Linked DNA regions of Homo sapiens: region 2 is linked to region 1. Evidence: fine-mapped expression QTL. A gene starts in region 1. The other region holds a variant in brackets. All regions are shown on one strand. Distances are from middle to middle. Region 1 holds the start of RPS28 (ribosomal protein S28). Region 2 overlaps FBN3 (fibrillin 3).

The links. PIP is the estimated chance that this variant, and not a neighbour inherited with it, causes the effect.
Region 2: its variant is fine-mapped to the expression of RPS28 in kidney cortex (GTEx, PIP above 0.99).

What each region holds. Positions count from the first base shown.
Region 1 is chr19:8,315,048-8,326,361 of GRCh38, reverse strand. It overlaps RPS28 (ribosomal protein S28), which reads right to left and starts at 4,866. Exons shown (of 4, transcript NM_001031.5): 1 at 4,793-4,866; 2 at 4,659-4,706; 3 at 4,271-4,409; 4 at 3,022-4,090. The coding sequence starts at 4,831. The coding sequence ends at 4,287. It overlaps NDUFA7 (NADH:ubiquinone oxidoreductase subunit A7), which reads left to right and starts at 4,987. Exons shown (of 4, transcript NM_005001.5): 1 at 4,987-5,054; 2 at 5,456-5,505; 3 at 9,717-9,866. The coding sequence starts at 5,004. KANK3 (KN motif and ankyrin repeat domains 3) reads left to right here. Exons shown (of 11, transcript NM_198471.3): 8 at 1,266-1,411; 9 at 1,532-1,732; 10 at 1,815-1,913; 11 at 3,440-3,778. The coding sequence ends at 3,523. RefSeq lists enhancers at 2,998-3,963, 3,964-4,931, 4,838-5,077, 4,932-5,899, 5,900-6,867 and 1 more.
Region 2 is chr19:8,081,747-8,093,060 of GRCh38, reverse strand. FBN3 (fibrillin 3) reads left to right here. Exons shown (of 64, transcript NM_032447.5): 48 at 1,471-1,596; 49 at 2,810-2,962; 50 at 3,102-3,167; 51 at 3,391-3,516; 52 at 4,882-5,001; 53 at 5,114-5,236; 54 at 5,850-5,984; 55 at 6,736-6,861; 56 at 7,492-7,698; 57 at 9,689-9,814. Among named protein-coding and RNA genes, the nearest start is that of CCL25, 35 kb to the right of the region's middle. The variant T/C (reference allele first, on the strand shown) is at 6,297.

The sequences.
Region 1 (11,314 bases):
CAGCTCCCAGGTTCAAGTGATTATCCTGCCTCAGCCTCCTGAGTAGCTGAGATTACAGGTGCCTGCCACCACGCCTGGCTATTTTTTGTGTTTTTAGTAGAGATGGGGTTCACCACATTGGCCAGGCTGGTCTCGAACTCCTGACCTCAAGTGATCAACCACCTCGGCCTCTCAAAGTGCTGGGATTACAGACGTGAGCCAGTGTCCTGGCAACCAAATTCATTTTGAATTGTTGCTCTTGGCCAGGCGCGGTGGCTCACACCTGTAATCCCAGCACTTTGGGAAGCTGAGGCAAGCGAATCATGAGGTCGGAGTTCGAGACCAGCCTGACCAACATGGTGAAACCGTCTCTACTAAAAATACAAAAATTAGCTGGGCGTGGTGGTGCATGCCTGTAATCCCAGCTACTCAAGTGGCCAAGGCAGAAGAATCGCTTAAACCTGGGAGGCAGAGGTTGCAGTGAGCTGAGATCGTGCCACTGCACTCCAGCCTGGGCGACAGAATGAGACTCCATCTCTAAATAAATAAATAGTTGCTCCTGGCTGCTGTGTGGAACCTGGAGTGGATTCAGAGAGAAGGGTGGAGGCTGGCACTGTTCTTTAGGGGAGCAATGATGGTGGCTTGGCGGGTGGTGGCCATGAAAATAAACATATCCTTTTATTATTCAGTCAACAAATGTTTAACTGAGCATCTACTATGTGCCAAGTATTGTTCTAAGTACTGAGGGATACAGAAGCAAACAAAACCAAGTCCCTGCCTGATTTGAAACAGGGACTTGATTTGAAATAGCCACTGGGCCAGTGGCTCATGCCTCTAATTCCAGCACTTTGGGAGGCTACGGTGGGTGGATCACTTGAGGTCAGGAGTTCGAGACTAGCCTGGCCAACATGGTGAAACCCTGTCTCTACTAAATAATACAAAAATTAGCTGGGTGTGATGGCACATGCTGTAGTTCCAGCTACTCCGGAGGTGGAGATTGCAGTGAGCTGAGATCGCACCACTGCACTCCAGCCTGGGTGACAGAGCGAGACTATGTCTCAAAAAAAAAAAAAAAAAAAAAAAAAAGATGAAACAGGAAGGTCCTTCACTGAGCAGATGGTATTTGAGCAACACCTTAGTGAGGGAGGAACCAGGTAGCTATTGTGGGGAGAACGTTGAGACCACCCCATATGCAGGTGCTGTGCCCGAGGCTTGCAGGGAGGTGAGTGGATCAAGTCGGGCCGCGGTGTTGGCATCTCCGTGGACGGCCCCCTTTTCTCTCCCAGGGGCCTGCGAGGTCAACCGCCAGAACCGAGCCGGCTACTCGGCCCTCATGCTGGCTGCACTCACCTCTGTGAGGCAGGAAGAGGAGGACATGGCTGTGGTCCAGAGACTCTTCTGCATGGGTGATGTCAATGCCAAGGCCAGTCAGGTGCGTGGGCGCCCCCACTGTGGCTCTCAGCCAGGAGTCACTTCCACTTTGGGAGTCAACCTGTGACCTCCCTTCCCTGAGCCTACCCCAGCCTGTTCCCTCTTCCTCCCCACTCCCCAGACGGGGCAGACAGCCCTCATGCTGGCCATCAGCCATGGCCGACAGGACATGGTGGCAACCCTACTGGCGTGTGGGGCTGATGTGAATGCGCAGGATGCGGATGGGGCCACAGCGCTGATGTGTGCCAGTGAGTATGGGCGCCTGGACACCGTGCGGCTGCTGCTCACCCAGCCAGGCTGTGACCCTGCCATCCTGGACAATGTAAGACCCCACAATGGGGCTGGCATCTTGGGGGGTGCCCATGGCTTGGCTCAGGGATCTGACTGTCCCTAACGTTCCACAGGAGGGCACCAGTGCCCTGGCCATCGCCCTGGAGGCTGAGCAGGATGAGGTGGCCGCTCTGCTACATGCCCACCTGAGCTCGGGCCAGCCCGACACCCAGGTGAGCACAGCTCTGGAAGAAACAAACTTTCCCAGCTGCAAATTCAGTTTGCAGAGGATAGTAAATATGCCCTGAGCCTCCCTTTCTGCTCCCCAAAGGTGGCACCAGGGGTGCAGAACCAGTGTCTGGATTCTCCTATGTGGCTGCTTTTCTTTTTTGGGAGACAGGGTCTCACTCTGTAACCCGGGTTGGGGTGTAGTGGTGTGATCAGAGCTCACTGCAGCCACAAACTCCTGAGCTCAAGGGATCCTTCTGCCTCAGCATCCTCAAGTGCTGGGATTACAGGTGTGAAACCAGAGCGCCTGGCAGGGGCTGGGATTTGATGTGAAAGCAGCAAAACCCCAGTGAGGTTGACACTACCCCAGGTCATGAGACTGAGTCCTCAAGGGGGGAAGTAACCTAAGGTCACAGAGACCTAGCTAAGACCTTTCATGCATGCCCCTGGGCTCCTGTTACCTACTGCCAGGGAGGCTCTTATCAAAGGAAAAAGGAGCCCTTTGGCATCAGGCAGGGTGGGGAAGGGGGTCCAGAGCTTCAGAACTGGAGACTGGGTGAGTTTGCAGAACACATTAACCCCCAACACCACTATACTCTGATGGCCAAGTGCCAGGATGTTTTAGCACTTTCATAATCCAAGTTATCTAATCAGCCCACTCATCCTGTACAGGTTGACCCCAATTTACCATGGCTCCACTTACCATTTTTTATTTATTTTTGAGATGGAGTCTTCCTCTGTCACCGAGGCTAGAGTGCAGTGGGGCGACTGCAGCTCACTGCAACCTCCACCTCTGGGGTTCAAGCGATTCTTCTGCCTCAGCCTCTCAAGTAGTTGGGACTACAGGCACGTGCTACCATGCCCAGCTAATTTTTTTTTTTCATTTGAAGACAAGAGTCTCGTTCTGTCACCCAGGCTGGAGTGCAGCGGCACAATCTCAGTTCACTGCAACCTCCACCTCCCAGGTTCAAGAAATTCTCCTGCCTCAGCCTCCCAAGTAGCTGGGATTACAACAGCTGTGAGCCATCGCGCCTGGCACAACTTACAATTTTTTGACTTCATGATAGCATAAAAGCAATGTGTGCTTAGTAAAAACCACACTTCAGCAGAGTATTCAATAAATTACATAAGACATTCAATACTTTATTAAAACAGGCTTCGTGTTAGACGAGTTTCCCCAACTACAGGCTAAGGCGTTCTGAACAAGCTTAAGATGGACCATGCTAAGCTGTGATGTTTGGGAGATTAGGTGTATTAAACACATTTCAACTTGCAATACTTTCAACCTATGATGTACTCACCGGAATGTAACCCATTGTAAACTGAGGAACACCTGTACTCACCCCACTGGAAGGGATGTGGGAGGAAGGTCAAGCGCCTCTTCCAGGTCAGAAGGGGCAGAGGTTGGATACAAACCAGGCAGCCTGGGTCCATGGTAAAAGAACCTCCACTAAGTGAGGCTGGGGCTGAATCCCACGTTTCCTGCCTCAAGGAGATTGCAGCAGGCCCCCCTCTTTTCCCCTCTCTCCAGAGCGAGTCACCCCCTGGCTCCCAGACAGCCACACCTGGTGAAGGAGAATGCGGTGACAATGGAGAGAACCCCCAGGTTCAGTAAGCTGCCTCGTCTGGCTCACTACACCTAGCTGTGGGGAGATCTCCTCGTCAGTCACCTCAGCCTTTGGCGCACAGAAGGGTCCAGGGTCCCCTGCTCAGAGGCTAACACTGGCCGAAGAGAAAGGCAATTTCAGTTGGGGTGACTGTGGCAGGAAGGGGCTCACTCTGGCCCCACCAAGGTGAGGTGGGGACCAAGTGATAGAGCCCTGATCCACCCACTCTCTGAAACTTCTTTGCTAATAAAACATTCCTACTACGCTTGTGTTTTGTTTGGGGTAGAGGGTGCAATCGACAAACACGACCCCCCGCCTCAAAAAGGAAAAGCTTCGTTTGGCAAGACCGCACGGCCAGGATTTCCAGAGTGCGGAGGATCGGTGACCGCCTGGGAGCCACTCAAGAAACCTGGAGAAACCCTAGTCGTATAACCCAGACAAGAACCTGAGTTAACTTGAAACACAAACGCTTTATTTAAAGGAGCATCTCAGTTACGTGTGGCGGACAAAAAAAAGGAGCAGACTGTGACAGACCATTCCCATCGGCCAAGTGGTCGAACCCGACATCCAAGACCCTGTAAACAGACCCAAACATGAGATGTTGACAGGCCCCGCAGCAATTGGCAAACTCCCGCCTCCCTCTTGTCAGTCTCTGTATGTAGACTCTGCCTCCCAAACCCTCTCACCCTGGGCTTAACGAAGCCTCCCTACCACCAACCAAAGGTCTATCAAAGGGGTGTCCTCTTTGCACCCACCAGCGAGCAGCCAAGCTCAGCGCAACCTCCGGGCTTCTCGCTCTGACTCCAAAAGGGTGAGCACGTCGCCCTCGCGCACGGGGCCTTTTACATTGCGGATGATGGATCGGCTCGTGTCGTCCATGAATTCCACGCGCACCTACGGGTCCCCACCGGAGTGGAGGAAGAAGTAAGGGCGGGCCGCGGAAAGGCACCGCGGAGTGGGAAGCAGATATGAATTCAGAGAACGTGTCGGGGCCAGAATACAGATCGTTAAAGGGAACCATCAGAACCCCGTGATGAAATGAGAATCGGCTCCCGGATTCCGGCTGGCAGGGGTTAGGGCAGGGTAGAGGTCACATCAGGGTTTAGGTCGCCGGCAGTCGGCCAAATGCCCCCACCCGATTACCTGCGTGCACTGTCCCTGAGAACCGGTCCTGCCCAGGACCTTGGTGACCTGGAGGAAAGAAGCTGGGTTCAGACCCGGCCCGTTTGGCTCCTCTAATCCCTCCCCCTGCCCCCAAATTCGGGCCCCCACCTCACCCTGGCCAGCTTGATAGGCTGCACACGGCTGGTGTCCATGATGGCGGCGCGGCGGCGGTCTGGCGGAGAGGAGTCACGTGCTTCGGGGAGAGCCTTTATAGGACGTTCTAGCACCGCCCACTCCCGTCTCGCGATACCACGCCGCGTCTTTCCCAGCAGCCCCAGCGGTGGAGACGTCACCGGCTGCGCCCTTCAGTATCGCGGACGGAAGATGGCGTCCGCCACCCGTCTCATCCAGCGGCTGCGGAACTGGGCGTCCGGGGTGCGCGGGGCGGACAGGGCTGCACCATGGGGGGCTTCGGGCTCCGTGTGTCCGGGACCCGCTCCTGCTCCTCACCTCCCTCCTAAGCCGGGACCCTTCGCTCTCCCCGAATCTCCCTGGGAACCCCCAGCTAGTCACCCCTTCAGCCCGGGACCCTCTCCTGGCCTGGGAACCACTCAGGCCTGGGATTTCCCCAGTCCCCGACCTTCTTAGCCTTGGATCTGTGGGCCCGGACTCTGGCTTTGCTCTTCACCTGCAGGACCCACATCCGTTTCCCCGAGTGTTCATCCCCTGCCTTCCCTTAAAATGCGCATCCCCGGACCATCCCTGGTCCCTTGCCCTCTCCTTTCCTCTCTCCTGGGGTGCCTTGCAGGCCGACCTCTCCTCTCCTCTTCCCACAGCATGACCTGCAGGGGAAGCTGCAGCTACGCTACCAGGAGATCTCCAAGCGGTGAGCAGGCCCCGCTCGCTGCCCAGCCTCTGGCTCTGTCCTTTCTCCACCAAAAACGAAATCTGTGTTCCTTTAGACCCCTGAAACGGAGGGCTGACATCCTGCCACCAGTCCCCTGCCAGGCTGTGGAGGCAGAGGTTTGCCTTTAACCTTGCTGAACTCCGGAGGACAGCCCTCCTGAAACAGCGAGGCCGGGCGTGCATTCTGACTGGCAATCAGGCTAGATTTGCAGTGCTCAGCGTGGCCATGTTAGTCAGTGTTATCCCCAAGCTACAGATGAAAAAAGAGGTCCAGAGAGGCGAAATCATTTGCCTCAAGTCACTCAGAAGCTAAAAAGTGGCAGCGGGGACTTGAACCCAGAAGTGTCCTGATTTCAGACTCATTTATATTAAAATATTAGTTGATATTTACAAGCCCCCGTCATGTATGACCTCAGCCTTGGGTTTAACTTTGTGAACCAGGAAAGTTCTTATCCACATTCTTTCATGGACGCCACATTCTAGGGAGAAGCATAGTAGGGAAACAAACACAGCAGGTAGTATTGTTCTGGAATGCTTTGAAGACAAAACAAAATAAGTGGAAGCTGGAGGGTGGCTACGTAAAGTCAGATGATTGGGAAAGATCTTTCTTTGGAAATTGACAGTTGAGTCCCCTGAATGATGGGAAGGACCCATTCAAAGAATAATTATTGAAAAAACATTCTGACCGGGCGCGGTGGCTCACGCTTGTGATCCCAGCACTTGGGGAGGCTGAGGCAGGCGGATCACGAGGTCAGGAGTTTGAGACCAGCCTGGCCAACACAGTGAAACACAGTAAAACCCCCTCTCTACTAGAAATACAAAAATTAGCCGGGCGTGGTGGCGCGCGCGGGTAGTCCCAGCTACTCGGGAGGTTGAGGCAGGAGAATCGCTTGAACACAGGAGGTGGATATTGCAGTGAGCTGAGATCGCACCACTGCACTCCAGCCTGGGTGACAGAACAACACTCTGTCTCAAAAAAATAAAAAAGAAAAAACATTCTGAGCAGAGGGAACAGGAAGGGCTAAGAGTGTCAGGCTGGACAGAGCCTGAGTGGAAGGAGGCCAGTATGGATGGAACCCATTGAGGGAAAGGGATAATGGTATAATCTATGAAGTCAAAGGGTAGGCAGAGGTAAGGCAGTCATTGAGGATTATAATGAAAGGAAGAAAAATAGCATTAAAATAATGAAATTTATGTAAATGCCTATATGTTGTGACTAATTCCAAATATTAGAAGTATCAAACTTTGTTTTCAACTTTTTTTTTTTTTTTTTTTTGAGACGGAGTTTTGCTCTTATTGCCCAGGCTGGAGTGCAATGGCACAATCTCAGCTCACTGCAATCTCCATCTCCCGGGTTCAAGCGATTCTCCTGCCTCAGCCTCCCAAGTAGCTGGGATTACAGGCATGTGCCACCACGCCTGACTAATTTTTTGTATTTTTAGTAGAAACGGGGTTTCACCATGTTGGCCAGTCTGGTCTCGAACTCCTGACTTCATAATCCGCCTGCCTCGGCCTCCCAAAGTGCTGGGATTACAGGTGTGAGCCACTGCGCCCGGCTTGTTTTCAACTTTAACGTTAAGTTCTGGGGTACATTTGCAGTTTTGTTACAAAGGTAAACGTGCCATGGTAGTTTGCTGCAAAGATCAAAGATCAACCTATCACTTAGGTATTAAGCCCAGCATCCATTAGCTATTCTTCCTGATGCTCTCTCCCCCCCAACCCCCGACCCCCCTAGTTGGCTTTCTATCAGGGTAGTTGTGGGCCAGTTGAGGAAATGGCTTTGTGAAAGTTTTGACTTTTTTAGGATGACGGCACCCTCTAGTGATTCATCTGGATGTTTTATTGGTCTTTTTTTTTTTTTCTTTTTTGAGACAGAGTCTCACTCTGTCGCCAAGCTGGAGTGCAGTGGCGGATCTGAGATCACTGCAATCTCCGCCTCCCGGGTTCAAGTGATTCTCCTGCCTCAGCCTCCCGAGTAGCTGGGGCTACAGGCGTGCACCACCACACCCAGCTAATTTTTGTATTTTTAGTAGTGACGGGGTTTCACCATGTTTGCCAGGATGGTCTGATCTCTTGACCTCGTGATCTGCCCGCCTCGGCCTCCCAAAGTGCTGGGATTACAGGTGTGAGCCACCGCGCCTGGCCTTTTTTTTTTTTTTTTTTTTTTTTTTTTGTAAGACTGGGTTTCTGTGACCCAGGCTGGAGTGCAGTGGCACAATCATAGCTCACTGCAGCCTCGAACTTCCAGGCCTAAGTGATCCTCCTGGTCCAGCGTACCAAGTAGCTGGGATTACAGGCACATGTTACCGTGCCTGGCTAATTTTTAAATTTTTGTATAGAGACAAGGTCTTACCATGTTGCCCAAGCTGGTCTTAAACTCCTGGCCTCTGACTGGGCATGGTGGCTCATGCCTGTAATCCCAGCACTTTGGGAGGCCGAGGCAGGCGGATCACAAGGTCAGAAGTTTGAGACCAGCCTGGCCAACATAGTGAAAACCCATCTCTACTAAAAATACAAAAATTAGCCAGCATGGTGGCACACGCCTGTATTCCCAGCTACCTGGGAGGCTGATGCAGGAAAATCGCTTGAACCTGGGAGGCGGAGGTTGCAGTGAGCCGAGATCGCACCACAGCACTCTAGCCTGGGCGACAGAGCGAGACTCCATCTCAAAAAAAAACAAACAAAAAAAACACTCCTGGCCTCAAGCAATCCTTCCACCTTGGCCTCCCAAGGTATGAGCCACCACATCCAGCCTCCTTAAGCAAAGTCTTTCACATAATATATTGCTTTTAATATTAAACATTTTTTACTTTATGTTTCTTATTTTTAAAAAATACAGTGACTAACACTTGTTTTAAGAAAAAGGCCAGGAGTGGTGGCTCACGCCTGTAATCCCAGCACTTTGGGAGGCCAAGGTGAGAGGATAACTTAAGGCCAGGAATTCGACATCAACCTGGGCAACATAGCAAGACCCCCGACTCCACAAAAACAATAGAAAAATTGTTTTTAGCCAGATGTGGTAGTGTGCGCCTGTAGTTCCAGCTACTTGAGAGGCTGAGGCGGGAGCATTGCTTGAGCCCAGGAGGTTGAGGCTGCAGTGAGCTATGATCACACCTCAAGCGATCATATGATTGCATATATCATCCAGGCTGCAGTGCATATGATCACTGCCTCAGAAAAAAATTAAATTCCGGGAAACAGTTCCCAGACAAAAAAGTGACTTAGAAACATGGCTAAGTGGAAACAGATCAATTTACGGTTTTTGCTGTCTTCTCTCCTCCCTCTCTCTGGAAAGCCCGTCTTTTGTTTTGAGCTTTTTTTGTTTTTTGAGATGGAGTCTCGCTCTGTCGCCCAGGCTGGAGTGTAGTGGCGTGATCTCAGCTCACTGCAACCTCTGCCTCCCACCACCATGCTTGGCTAATTTTTGTATTTTAGTAGAGATGGGGTTTGCAGTGTTGGCCAGGCTGGTTTCGAACACCTGACCTCAAGTGATCCACCCACCTCGGCCTCCCAAAGTGCTGGGATTACAGGCATGAGCCACCCTGCCCATCCTTGTTTTGAGCATTTCTTTTAAGGCCTCAGGCTTCCAGGTAAATCCAGCCCAGGGTTTAGTTCAAGCCAAGACCGAGCTCTGTTCACCCCTCTCTGGGCTCCAGAGAGGAGTTGCCTGGCCACATGGTGGCAGGAAATGCAGAGATCTTGACAGGCTCCAAGGCTAAGGTGTTCTTGAATAATGGGCCTTGATCCTAGCAGGGTTCTCCAGAGACTTCCTGAGATAACAGGAAACGCAGGGCGTCCAGAGCCTGGCTTTAGGGGAAAAAGCCACTCAGAGTGGACAAAGTCAAGTGAGGCTGGCTGCCAAGCTCAGCCGTGGGGTGGGGGGCATGGGGACATGTCCCGGGCCTTGGGAGCCTCAGAAAGGGTCCTCTGTACCCTCCACATTTGGGACAGGTGGGGTCCCTGGGGGTGGCATCTTCACATCCAGAGCAGGGTCCACCATCTGCTTCTGGCCCCAGGACCCCTCCCCAGGCATATGTCCCTGCCAGTGTACCAAGGGACACCCCCAGCCTGTGGCTTATCCCAGTGGCTGGCTGTAGATCCCACATTTTGTGACTGAGGTGACAGGGGCCCACAGCGGGGCCATGACAGTGACTGTCTCTTTGCTTCAGTGCTCATCTTTTTTCCCCTCAGAACTCAGCCTCCTCCCAAGCTCCCTGTGGGTCCTAGCCACAAGCTCTCCAACAATTACTATTGCACTCGCGATGGCCGCCGGGAATCTGTGCCCCCTTCCATCATCATGTCGTCGCAGAAGGCGCTGGTGTCAGGCAAGCCAGCAGAGAGGTGAGGATCTCCAGCGCTGCTCACCACAGCCCCCATGCCCCCTCCTGCAACCCACTCTGTCTCCCAACTTGTGGAAAGGGTGCTTGTCAAGATCCTACTTAGTAAGCATCAGTTGCGCAGGAACTGTGCTGCTGGGAGCTTTTTGTCCGAGAGCTCATTTACTCGTTTTTAGAGACAGAGTCTTGCTCTGTTGCCCAGGATGAAGTGCAATGGCGCAATCATCACTCACTGCAGCCTTGAACGCCTAGGCTGAAGTGATCCTCCCCTCCTTCCTTGGCCTCCCCAGTAATTGGTGTTACAGATTAGTGCCACCATGCTGGGTCAATTTTTTTTTTTTTTTTTTTTTTGAGACGGAGTCTCACTCTGTCACCCAGGCTGGAGTGCAGTGGTGTGATCTCGGCTCACTGCAATCTCCACCTCCCGGGTTCAAGCGATTCTCTGCCTCAGCCTCTCAAGTAGCTGGGGTTACAAGTGCCCACCACTACACCCAGCTAATTTTTGTATTTTCAGTAGAGGCGGGGTTTCACCATCTTGGCCAGGCTGGTCTTGAACTGACCTTGTGATCCACCCGACTCGGCCTCCCAAAGTGCTAGGATTACAGGCGTGACCCACCGTGCCTGGCCTGTTTTGTTTTTGTTTTTGTTTTTGTTTTGAGATGGAGTCTCCCTGCGTCGCCCAGGCTGAAGGGGTGGGTTGCCCCTCCACACCTGTGGGTGTTCCTCGTTAGGTGGAATGAGAGACTTGGAAAAGAAAGAGACACAGACAAAGTATAGAGAAAGAAATCGGGTGACCAGGGGACCAGCGCTCAGCATACGGAGGATCCACCCGGCCTCTGAGTTCCCTTAGTATTTATTCATCATTATTGGGTGTGATGTGTGAGAGGGGGATGTGGCAGGATCATAGGATAATAGTGGAGAGAAGGTCAGCAGGTAAACACGTGAACAAAAGTCTCTGCATCATAAACAATGTAAAGAATTAAGTGCTGTGCTTTAGATACATATACACGTAAACATCTCAATGCCTTAAGGAGCAGTATTGCTGCCCGCATGTCCCACCTTCAGGCCTAAGGCGGTTTTCCCCTATCTCAGTAGATGGAATATACAATCGGGTTTTACACCGAGACATTCCATTGCCCAGGGAAGGGCAGGAGACAGATGCCTTCCTCTTGTCTCAACTGCAACAGGGCATTCCTTCCTCTTTTACTAATCCTCCTCATCACAGACCCTTTACCGGTGTCGGGCTGGGGGACGGTCAGGTCTTTCCTTTCCCACGAGGCCACATCTCAGGCTATCACATGGGGAGAAACCTTGGACAATGCCTGGCTTTCCTAGGCAGGGAACCCTGTGGCCTTCTGTGGTGTTTTGTGTCCCTGGGTACTTGAGATTAGGGAGTGGTGACGACTCTTAAGGAGCATGCTGCCTTCCAGCTTCTGTTTAACAAAGCACATC
Region 2 (11,314 bases), 230 kb after region 1:
TAATTTCAATAGTTATGGGGGAACAGGTGGTTTTTGGTTACATGGATAAGTTCTTCAGTGGTGATTTCTGAGATTTTGGTGCACCTGTCACCTAAGTAGTATACACTGTACCCAGTATGTAGTCTTTTATCCCTCACCCCCCTCCCATCCTTCCCTGGGGGTCCCCAAAGTCCTTTATATCATTATTATGCCTTTGCATCCTCATAGATTAGCTCCCACTTATAAGTGAGAACATACGATATTTGGTTTTCCATTCCTGAGTTACTTCACTTAGAATAACGGCCTCCAGCCCCATCCAAGTTGCTGCAAAGGACATTATTTTGTTCCTTTTTTTTTTTTTTTTTTTTTTTTTTGGTGGAGTCTCACTCTGTCACCCAGACTGGAGTGGCACAGTCTCAGCTCACTGCAATATCCACCTCCCGGGTTCAAGCGATTCTCCTGCCTCACCCTCCTGGTAGCTGGGATTACAGGTGCGCCCCGCCACAATGCCCAGCTAATTTCTGTATTTTCAGTAGAGACAGGGTTTCACCATGTTGGCCAAGCTGGTCTCCAGCTCCTGATCTCAAGTGATCCACCAGCCTTGGCCTCCCAAAGTGCTGGGATTACAGGTGTGAGCCACTGTGCCTATTTCGTTCCATTTTGTGGCTGAGTAGTATTCCATGGTGTATTATATACCACATTTTCTTTATCTACTCGTTGGCTGATGGGCATTTATAAATATGATGGCTCCAGATTTTTGCGATTGTGAATTGTGTTGCTATAAACATGCATGTGCGTGTGTCTTTTTCATATAATGACTTACTTTCCTTTGGGTAGATACCCAGTAGTAGGATTGCTGGATTGAATGGTAGTTCTACTTTTAGTTTTTTGGTTTTTTTTTTTTGAGACAGAGTCTCGCTCTGTCACCCAGGCTCAAGTGCAGTGGTATGAGCTCAGCTCACTGCAAGCTCTGCCTCCCGGGTTCATGCCATTCTCCTACCTCAGCCTCCAGAATAGCTGGGACTACAGGCGCCCACCACCACACCCGGCTAATTTTTTTGTATTGTTAGTAGATGGTTTCACCATGTTAGCCAGGATAGTCTCAATCTCCTGACCTGGTGATCCACCCGCCTCCACCTCCCAAAGTGCTGGGATTACAGGCATGAGCCACCGCGCCCGGCCTTACTTTTAGTTCTTTAAGGAATCGCCACACTGTTTTCCATAGAGGTTGTACTATGTGCAGTTTCAGTCTCCAATCATGAACTATTCCTGACCATGACCTTTACTCTGGAGATGCCTTCCGGGAAGGACCTACGTGCACACACAATGCCCACCTCGTGCTGAAGCTCATACTGAGCTCTCAGGACCCCAGCCCCACTGCAGCCCCTGGCTGGACCTGCACTCCATCTGTCCCTTCTCACAGCTGAGTCCTCTCCCCACTGATGGAGGTCCTACTTGCCCCCCACCCAGCTCATGTCCCTGCCCTTCCAGATATCGACGAGTGCTCAGAGGAGCCCAACCTCTGCCTCTTTGGCACCTGTACCAACAGCCCTGGGAGCTTCCAGTGCCTCTGCCCACCTGGCTTTGTCCTCTCTGACAATGGGCACCGTTGCTTTGGTAAGTCCACACAGGGCTTAGGGAAGAGGGTGGGAAGTGGGGCGGGGAAGGGTCAGATTGCCCAGAAAAGAGGGCTGTGGTTTCTTGTGTGACCCTTTGGGAGCTCTGACCAGGCAGAGGTGTCTGTTTGCATTAGCAGAGTTATCCTAGTGCCAGCAACCTCTTGGCTATAGAGGTCATGTCTATGGAGGGCTAACCTGGTCCATTCTGAGCTAGGTGTGTGCTTATTTAGGTTTTCCTTGTATTGGTCACATGACTGTAGGCTGTCAATGGGCTGGTTTTGTCCAGTTTGAGCTAGCCTAGACTACTCTGGGCTGGCTCCGTTTCAGCTGGGCTAGCCTTGTCTACTGTGGGCTAACCTCACCCAGCTTGAGCCAGCCTGTTCTCTCACAGGTCAGGGGCAATAAGGGTGAGAGCAGAGCATGCAGTTCACCTCAGCGAATATTTGCTGTTCTGGGAGGCTGGGACCCCAGCCTGCTGGTGAGGACTTGATAGGTGTCCAGAGCCAAGGATTGGGGGTTTGGATCCTCGGGCTTTCTGGAATCAGTCGTTTTGCCTCTCCAGGAAGGGGTTTTTGATCCAAGAGTAACCACCAAGTTTGATCTTTCTTCCTGGCATGAGAACACCCCAAAGCAATGAAGTGGGGTGGGATTCCAGCTGTCCCCTCAAAACCCCAGGGCAGGCCAGGGGCGGTGGCTCATGACTGTAATACCAGCACTTTGGGAGGCTGAGGCAGGCTGATCACCTGAGGTCAGGAGTTTGAGACCAGCCTAGCCAATGTGGTGAAACCCCGTCTCTACTAAAAATACAAAAATTAGCCGGGTGTGGTGGCACATGCCTGTAATCCCAGCTACTTGGGAGGCTGAGGCAGGAGAATCACTCGAACCTGGGAGGTAGAGGTTGCAGTGAGCTGAGATCGTGCCACTGCACTCCAGCCTGGTCAACAGAGGAAGACTCCATCTGAAAAAAAAAAAAAACCACCACCACCACCAACAACAACAACTAAAAACCCAGGGCAGATCCTCATTGGCCCAGAGTAGGTCACATGTCCATACTCAAACCAATCACCATGACCAGGGGCATGGCATGTTCTGATTGGCCACTGGCAGGATCAGCACAACCCATTCACCAGGACTGGGGTGCGGGAGGTCACAGGGGCAGGTGGGCACTGCCAGCGGCTTTCAATCAGGGTAATGGAGCCCCCACCCCACAGACACACGGCAGAGTTTCTGCTTCACCCGTTTTGAGGCTGGGAAGTGCTCGGTGCCCAAAGCTTTCAACACCACCAAGACCCGCTGCTGCTGCAGTAAGAGGCCTGGGGAGGGCTGGGGAGACCCCTGCGAACTGTGTCCCCAGGAGGGCAGCGGTGAGTGCCCACCCCTGTCCAGGCTCCCTGGATGATGTGCCCTCACCTTCCTCTCTCATTCTTCTCTCATCCTTCCCTGCACACACCTGGGGGCTGCACCTAGGCCCTGACTCTGACTCCCCTCCCCCTCTCCGTCCAGCTGCCTTTCAGGAGCTCTGCCCCTTTGGCCACGGGGCAGTCCCAGGCCCGGATGACTCCCGAGAAGGTGAGCCCCTCACCCACATGCTAAGAGCCCCTTCTGGGCCACCCAGATCCATCTCCGCACTGCCTGGGTCTCTGAGTTTCAGGCTCCCCCTGAGAGCCTGGGTGGCCCTGGACCCTGCCAGCCTGGGGCTTGGGCTTTTGTCCCCTTGGGGCCTTGAGTGTGGCCAGGGCTCTGGCGATTGTGTGGTGACAGAAGCCATGTCTGCAACGCCTGCCATCCGCAGACGTGAATGAGTGTGCAGAGAACCCTGGCGTCTGCACTAACGGCGTCTGTGTCAACACCGATGGATCCTTCCGCTGTGAGTGTCCCTTTGGCTACAGCCTGGACTTCACTGGCATCAACTGTGTGGGTGAGTGGCCAGCCCTTCCCCAGCTCTGTCCCAGGCCCCTCCCAGGACAGGAAGGAGCAGAGCAGGGCAGGGAAGACACCCCCAGGCAGTGGGTGAGATCCTGTCCTTAACCACTGCCTCTCTCCCCCATTCACTTTTTCTCCCTCTGTGCTTCATTCACTCATTAATTCACTTGCTCACTCATTTTCTTGCTCATTCATTCACTCACTCACTTATTCATTTACTCATTCACTTATTCATTTACTGACTCATTCATTCACTTGCTCACTCACTTACTCATTTTCTCATTCATTCACTCATTCACTCACTCATTTACTCCCTTATTCATTCACTTACCAATTCACTCACTCATTCACTCCTTGGCTCACTCATTCCTTCACTTGTTCATTCATTCACTTATTAATTCACTAACTCCCTCATTCATTCACACGTCATTCATTCACTTGCTCATTCACTCACTTATTCATTTACTCACTTATTCATTTACTCACTTATTCACTCATTCACTCATTTGCCCCCTCACTCATTCACTTGCTAATTCTCTCACTCATTCACTCCTTTGCTCACTCATTCCTTCGCTTGTTCATTCATTCACTTGTTCATTCAATCACTCCCTCATTCATTCACACCTCATTTATTCACTGGCTCATTCATTCACTCACTCATTCATTTACTCATTCACTCATTCACTCGTTTGCTCCCTCATTCATTCACTTGCTTGTTTGTTCACTCATTCATTTGTTCCTTCATTTGTCTCCTTGCTCATTCACCCATTCAATCACTCATTTATTCATTTACTCACTCATTCCTTTGCTCATTCATTCATGCTTTCACTCACTTATTCAGTCACTCATTCGTTTCCTCATTTGCCCTCTTGTTCATTCATTCACTTCCTTGCTGATTTCTCCATTCACTCACTCAGTAATTCACCCACTCATTCACCCCTTTACTCACTCATTCCCTTATTCATTTAACCATTCATTCACTTACTCATTTATATGTTTTTTAGAGATGAAGTCTTGCTATGTTACCCAGGCTCTTTTGGAACTCCTGGGCTCAAATGACCCTCCTGCCTCAGTTTCAGTTACTGGTTTAATCACTCCTTCATTCACTGGCTCATTCATTCACTTCTTGCTCATTCACTCACTCCCTTGCTCACTCATGCATTCCTTTACCTGCCCACTTGCTCACACATTCACTCATTCATTCACTAAACACATACCGCTTGCCTGCCCCATAGCCAGACTAGAGGTGCATTCGATCTGGCCCCCTCCGATCTGTGGTGGTCAACAGGCAGGCAGATGGGATGCTACTGAGGATGGGGGACCCTCTGCAGGTGCTGACCACCCCCTTACTCCCACCCAGACACAGACGAGTGCTCTGTCGGCCACCCCTGTGGGCAAGGGACATGCACCAATGTCATCGGAGGCTTCGAATGTGCCTGTGCTGACGGCTTTGAGCCTGGCCTCATGATGACCTGCGAGGGTACAACTCTGCTTGCCCAGGACCTGGGCCGTGTGACGGAGATGCCTGGGGGAGGGAGTGGAGGTCCCGCCCTCAGTCCCTACCCAGCTGGCACCTCCACTGGCCTCCCCAGACATCGACGAATGCTCCCTGAACCCGCTGCTCTGTGCCTTCCGCTGCCACAATACCGAGGGCTCCTACCTGTGCACCTGTCCAGCCGGCTACACCCTGCGGGAGGATGGGGCCATGTGTCGAGGTAGGCCTGACTAATATGGTAAAACCCTGTCTCTACTAAAAATACAAAATTAGCTGGGCATGGTGGCACACGCCTGTAATCCCAGCTACTTGGGAGGCTGAGAGACAGGAGAATCGCTTGAACCTGGGAGGCGGAGGTTGCAGTGAGCCGAGATCATGCCACTGCACTCCAGCCTGGGCGACAAGAGCAAAACTCCGCCTCAAAAAAAAAAAAAAAAAAAAAAAAATCCTGCAATGCACACAGAACAGCCGCCCACCGCAAAGAACTTTCCTATCCCAAATGTTCATAGTGTCAAGCGTGGGAGACCCTGGTCTGGGACTCAGTGTCTCTGGGGCTGTTTCAGGGTCAGTGTTCCAGGGGCCATGAGCAGACTCACAGACCCTGACATGGGCAGGGGATGCAAGCTTTGGGGGACAATTCCTGATTCCCTCAGCTTCTTGGAGGCTGGGGCTGGGCAGGAGCTGGGGGCTCCCTTCCTAAGAGGGATAGACATTTGACAGGGTCTGCAGGGAACTCACTCAGGTCCCACAGGGCTGACGCAGGGTGGAATCCAGGTCCCCACAGCCATAGGGTGCCTGGCCTTGACTGACCATCTGTCTCTGGTCATCCGAAGATGTGGACGAGTGTGCAGATGGTCAGCAGGACTGCCACGCCCGGGGCATGGAGTGCAAGAACCTCATCGGTACCTTCGCGTGCGTCTGTCCCCCAGGCATGCGGCCCCTGCCTGGCTCTGGGGAGGGCTGCACAGGTATGGGGCACTGGAGCTTCATGGGTGCAGGAAACTCCTTGTGGAAGGGAGAGGTCAAAGCAAGAGGGTTGGACCGGGCACGGTGACTCATACCTGTCATCCCAGCACTTTGGGAGGCTGAGGCGAGAGGATCGCTTGAGCCCAGGAATTTGAGGCTTCAATGAATGGGAGGGACAGGCAGTGGGGGGGGACAGGCAGTGGGAGGGACAGGTAGTGGAGGTGACAGGCAGTGGGAGGACAGTGCCGCTGCACTCCAGCCTGGACGACAGAGTGAGACCCCATCTCCAAAAACAATAAAAATGAAAATAAGGC[T/C]GGGCACGGTGCCTCACGCCTGTAATCCTAGCACTTTGGGAGACCAAGGCGGTTGGATCATCTGAGGTTAGGAGTTTGAGAACAGGGTGGACAACACGGCGAAACCCCGTCTCTACTAAAAATACAAAAAAAAAAAAAAAAATAGCTGGGCGTGGCGGCGGGCACCTGTAATCCCAGCTACTTGGGAAGCTGAGGCAGAAGAATTTCTTGAACCCGGGAGGTGGACGTTGTAGTGACCCAAGATCAGGCAATTGCACTCCAGCCTGGGAAACGGAGCGAGACTCTGTCTCAAAAAATAATAATAATAATAATAATAAAAATAAATAAAATAAAAATAAGCAAGAGGGCCTGGGCAGATCCAAAGGGGCCCTTTGGGGCTGTGGGAGAGGCTGGCTGCCTGTGGCCTCCCCGCCCACCTGCCTCACCCCTCCCATCTCAGATGACAATGAATGCCACGCTCAGCCTGACCTCTGTGTCAACGGCCGCTGTGTCAACACCGCGGGCAGCTTCCGGTGCGACTGTGATGAGGGATTCCAGCCCAGCCCCACCCTTACCGAGTGCCACGGTGAGTGTGGCTGGACACGCACAGTGGTTGCAACCACCTACCATGTGGCACCCACTGCCTGTCCCCCCCCACTGCCTGTTCCCCCCACTGCCTGCCCCCTTCACTCCCTGTCCCTCCCACTGCCTGTTCCCTCCACTGCCTGTTCCCCCCACTGCCTGTCCCTCCCACTGCCTGTCCCTCCCACTGCCTGTCCCCCCACTGCCTGTCCCTCCCACTGCCTGTCCCTCCCACTGTCTGGGAGCCCTCCAAGGCAGGGACGGGGCCTGCGGCACTGACGGGCAACCCAGGGGGTTGCTGAGCTAATCCGGACACACATGTCCAGTGCTCCCCTGCTGCCCCTCTTCCCTCTGTCCCTTCTGTTAAATACTGGAAGAGCGGGACGCTCCCTCCATGCCTCCTCCAACTTACTGGCGCCACACCCCGGAACCAACCTTCCCCAGATCTCCCACTTCTGGGGAGCTAACCCCAGCCGGTGACCCACTAGGGCCATCTGTCCTGTGTATCCAACTCCCTCCTGGACACCCCTGTCCCCAACACCCCCAAAATACAGCTTGCCCCAAAGCAAGCTCAGTCTTTGCCCCCAAACCAGCCTCCTGGAGTGACCGTTGTCTTTCCCATTGTTCTCTGCAGACATCCGGCAGGGGCCCTGCTTTGCCGAGGTGCTGCAGACCATGTGCCGGTCTCTGTCCAGCAGCAGTGAGGCTGTCACCAGGGCCGAGTGCTGCTGTGGGGGTGGCCGGGGCTGGGGGCCCCGCTGCGAGCTCTGTCCCCTGCCCGGCACCTCTGCCTACAGGAAGCTGTGCCCCCATGGCTCAGGCTACACTGCTGAGGGCCGAGGTGGGTGCCCATGCCCTCAGGACCCCCAGGGAGGCAAGAAACGGGGGAGTTTGCTCAGGGTCATGTGTCTGTACTGCAGCAGGTGCTGGAATGTGTGAGCCACACTGTGTGTGTGTGTGTGTGTGTGTGTGTGTGTGTGTGTCTTTGTGCTAGCAGATATGAGAACCAGTACGTGTGCACCATATGCATGGAAGAACTCGGGGGGTTGAGGGAGCAGTTGTGTGAGCCAATGTGTGTGTATGTGTTCTGAGACAGAGTCTCACTTTGACACCCAGGCTGGAGTGCAGTGGTGCAATCTCAGCTCACTGCAACCTCTGCCTCCCAGTAGCATACCTGTCATCCCAGCACTTTGGGAGGCTGAAGAAGGAGGATTGCTTAAGCCCAGGAATTTGAGGCTGCAATGAGCTAAGATAGTGCCACTGCACTCCAGCCTGGGTGATAGAGCAAGACCTCGTCTCCAAAAGCAATAAAAATAGGCCGGGCACAGTGGCTCACACTTGTAATCCCAGCACTTTGGGAGGCTGAGGCGGCCGGATCACCTGAGGTCAGGAGTTTGAGACCACCCTGGTCAACATGGTGAAACCTCATCTCTACTAAAAATACAAAAAATTAGCTGGATTTGGTGGCGTGTGTCTGTAATCCCAGTTACTCGGGAGGCTGAGGCAGGAGAATCCCTTGAATCCGGGAGGCAGAGCTTGCAGTGAGACGAGATCACGCCATTGCACTCCAGCCTGGGCAACAGAGAGAAACTCTGTCCCAAAAAAATAAATAAATAAAAATAAAAAGCAAGAGGGCCTTAACAGACCCAAAGGATCTCTTTGGGGCCGTGGGAGAGGCTGGCTCTCCCATGGCCAGTAAAGATGAGGTTTTGCCATGCTGGCCAGGCTGGTCTCGAACTCCTGGCCTCAAGTGATCCGCCCACCTCAGCCTCCCAAAATGCTGGGATTACAGGCATGAGCCACCGCGCCCGGCCCAGTGTGTGTTCTTTGTGAGTGAGAGCTCGTTCCGGACTGCGTGGGAGCTGGTGTGTGTCTGTGTGTGTCAGCTGGGTGAGAAGTATACACCATGTTCATCTGTGAAGTAGAAGGCAGTGAGAGGGAGCCAGCGGCCTGTGTGTTGTGGACTTGGGTGAGTGTACAAGGGCAGGTATGTGAGTGTCTGCGTGTGAGCGAGCATAAGGACATCAGTGCGTCTCACTGAGTGTGTCACTGATAGTGAGATGGGTTATCCATGTGACCAGCAGTGGCATCAACAGGACTGGGGAGGGCCGCGGTGGCTCACGCCTGTAATCCCAGCACTTTGGGAGGCTGAGGCGGGCAGATCACGAGGTCAGGAGATTGAGACCATCCTGGCTGACACGGTGAAACCCTGTCTCTATTAAAAATACAAAAAATTAGCCGGGCGTGGTGGCAGGTGCCTGTAGTCCCAGCTACTTGGGAGGCTGAGGCAGGAGAATGGCGTGAACCCGGGAGGCGGAGCTTGCAGTGAGCAGAGATCGTGTCACTGCACTCCAGCCTGGGCGACAGAGCGAGACTCTGTCTCAAAAAAAAAAAAAAAGAAAAAATAGTAGGACTGGGGAGGAAATGGCTTTTTGGGGGTGTGGCTGGGGGGAGACTCGGGAGTCCCTGAGTGTTGGCGTGTGTTCCCGTGTTTCTGCAGGAGCATCTAGGTGTGTGGCTAGTGTATCATGTTGCATGCACTGTGTGTCTCTGTTCTGCATGTTGGTGCACTGAGGAGGTGTCGCTGTTGAGGCTGGGGAGGGGTGGGTGTGAGTCCCCTTCCCTGGAAGCTTCATGGGCGTGTCCTGCGGGCTCAGGTGTCATCCGCAGCCTGAGGATGGGGTCCACGTGGGCTGGGGTGCAGTGGCCGGTGTGGAAGGGAGGCTGGACTTTCCTCCGAGGAGACGGCTGCTGGGCAGAGAGAAGGAGACATTCCTCGGTGGAGGCGCGAAGCAGCCAGCCAGCCCCATTTGCACCCTACTTTTTCCCAGATGTAGATGAATGCCGTATGCTTGCTCACCTGTGTGCTCATGGGGAGTGCATCAACAGCCTTGGCTCCTTCCGCTGCCACTGTCAGGCCGGGTACACACCGGATGCTACTGCTACTACCTGCCTGGGTGAGCCCAGCCCTCTGCACCTGCACCCTTGGCCCAGCCTGGCCACCTTCTGTGCAGCCCCTGAACTCAACTTCCCTGAGACTTTCCACTTTGCAATGTTAGGCTTTCATTTACAAAGTGGTGCCCAAACCATACAGACAACTGAGGGCCAGGTGTGATGGCTCGCTACTGTAATCCCAGTATTTTGGGAGGTCGAGGTGGGAGGATCACTTGAGACCAGGAGTTCCATAGCAACATAGCAAGACCCCATCGCTAAAAAAAATTAGCCAGGATGGTGGCCTGTAGTCCCACATGCGCCTGTAGCCCCAGCTACTTGGGAGGCTGCTTGAGCTCAGGAGTCTGAGGCTGCAGTGAGCTGATTGTGCCACTGCAGTCCAGCCTGGGTGACAGAGTGAGACCCTGTCTCTTAAAAAATGAAAAACAAAAGAAAAGAAAGAAAGAAAAAAAAAAACAGGCCAGGCATAGTAGCTCATGCTTGTAATCCCAGCACTTTGGGAGGCCAAGGTGGGCACATCATTTGAAGCCAGGATTTCAAGACCAGCCTGGCCAAGATGGTGAAACCCCATCTCTGCTAAAAATACGAAAATTAGCTGCACGTGCTGGTGCATGCCTATAATCCCAGCTACGCGGGAGGCTGAGGCAGGAGAATCGTTTGAACCCAGGAAGTGGAGGTTGTAGTGAGCTGAGATCATGCCACTGCAGTTTAGTCTGGACAACAGAGTGAGACTCTGTCAAGAAAGAAAGAGAGAAAGAAAGGGAAGGAAGGAAGGAAGGAAGGAAGGAAGGAAGGGAAGGGAAGGAAGGAAGAGAGAGAGAGAGAAAGAAACAAAGAGAAAGGGGAGAAAGAGAAAAAAGAGAAGAAAGAAGAGAAAGAAAGAAAAAAGAAAGAGAGAGAGACAAAAAGAAAGAGAAAGAAACAGAAAGAAAGAAAGAGAAAGGGAGAAAGAGAGAAAGGGAGAGGAAGGAAGGGAAGGAAGGCCAAGTGAGGTGGCTCACGCCTGTAATCCCAGCACACTTTGGGAGGCTGAGGCAGAAGGATCACTTGAGGCCAGGAGTTTGAGACCAGCCTGGCCAACATCATGAAACCGTCTCTACTAAAAAAAAGAAAAAAAGAAAAAAAATTAGCCAGGTGTTATGTGCCTGTAATCCCAGCTGCTTGGGAGGCTGAGGCAGGAGAATTGTTTGAACCTGGGAGGCGGAGGGTGCAGTGAGCTGAGATTGCGCCATCGCATTCCAGCCTGGGTGATGAAACGAGACTCCGTCTCAAGAAAGAAAGAGAGAAACAAGGAAGGGAGGGAGGGAGGGAGGGAGGATCCTTTCGTTCTCCCACCCCCACCCTGTTTGGGCCACTTTCCTGCTGTTATTTCTTCCTTTTATTTTGCACATCCTGATATTTTTCAGTTGTGTTTTGTAGCAAGCGTACATCTAAGTCAGCGGGAAGAAAACTCTAGCCCGAGGGTCAAGTCTGGCCCTCCATTTGTTCTTGTCAATAAAGTTTTA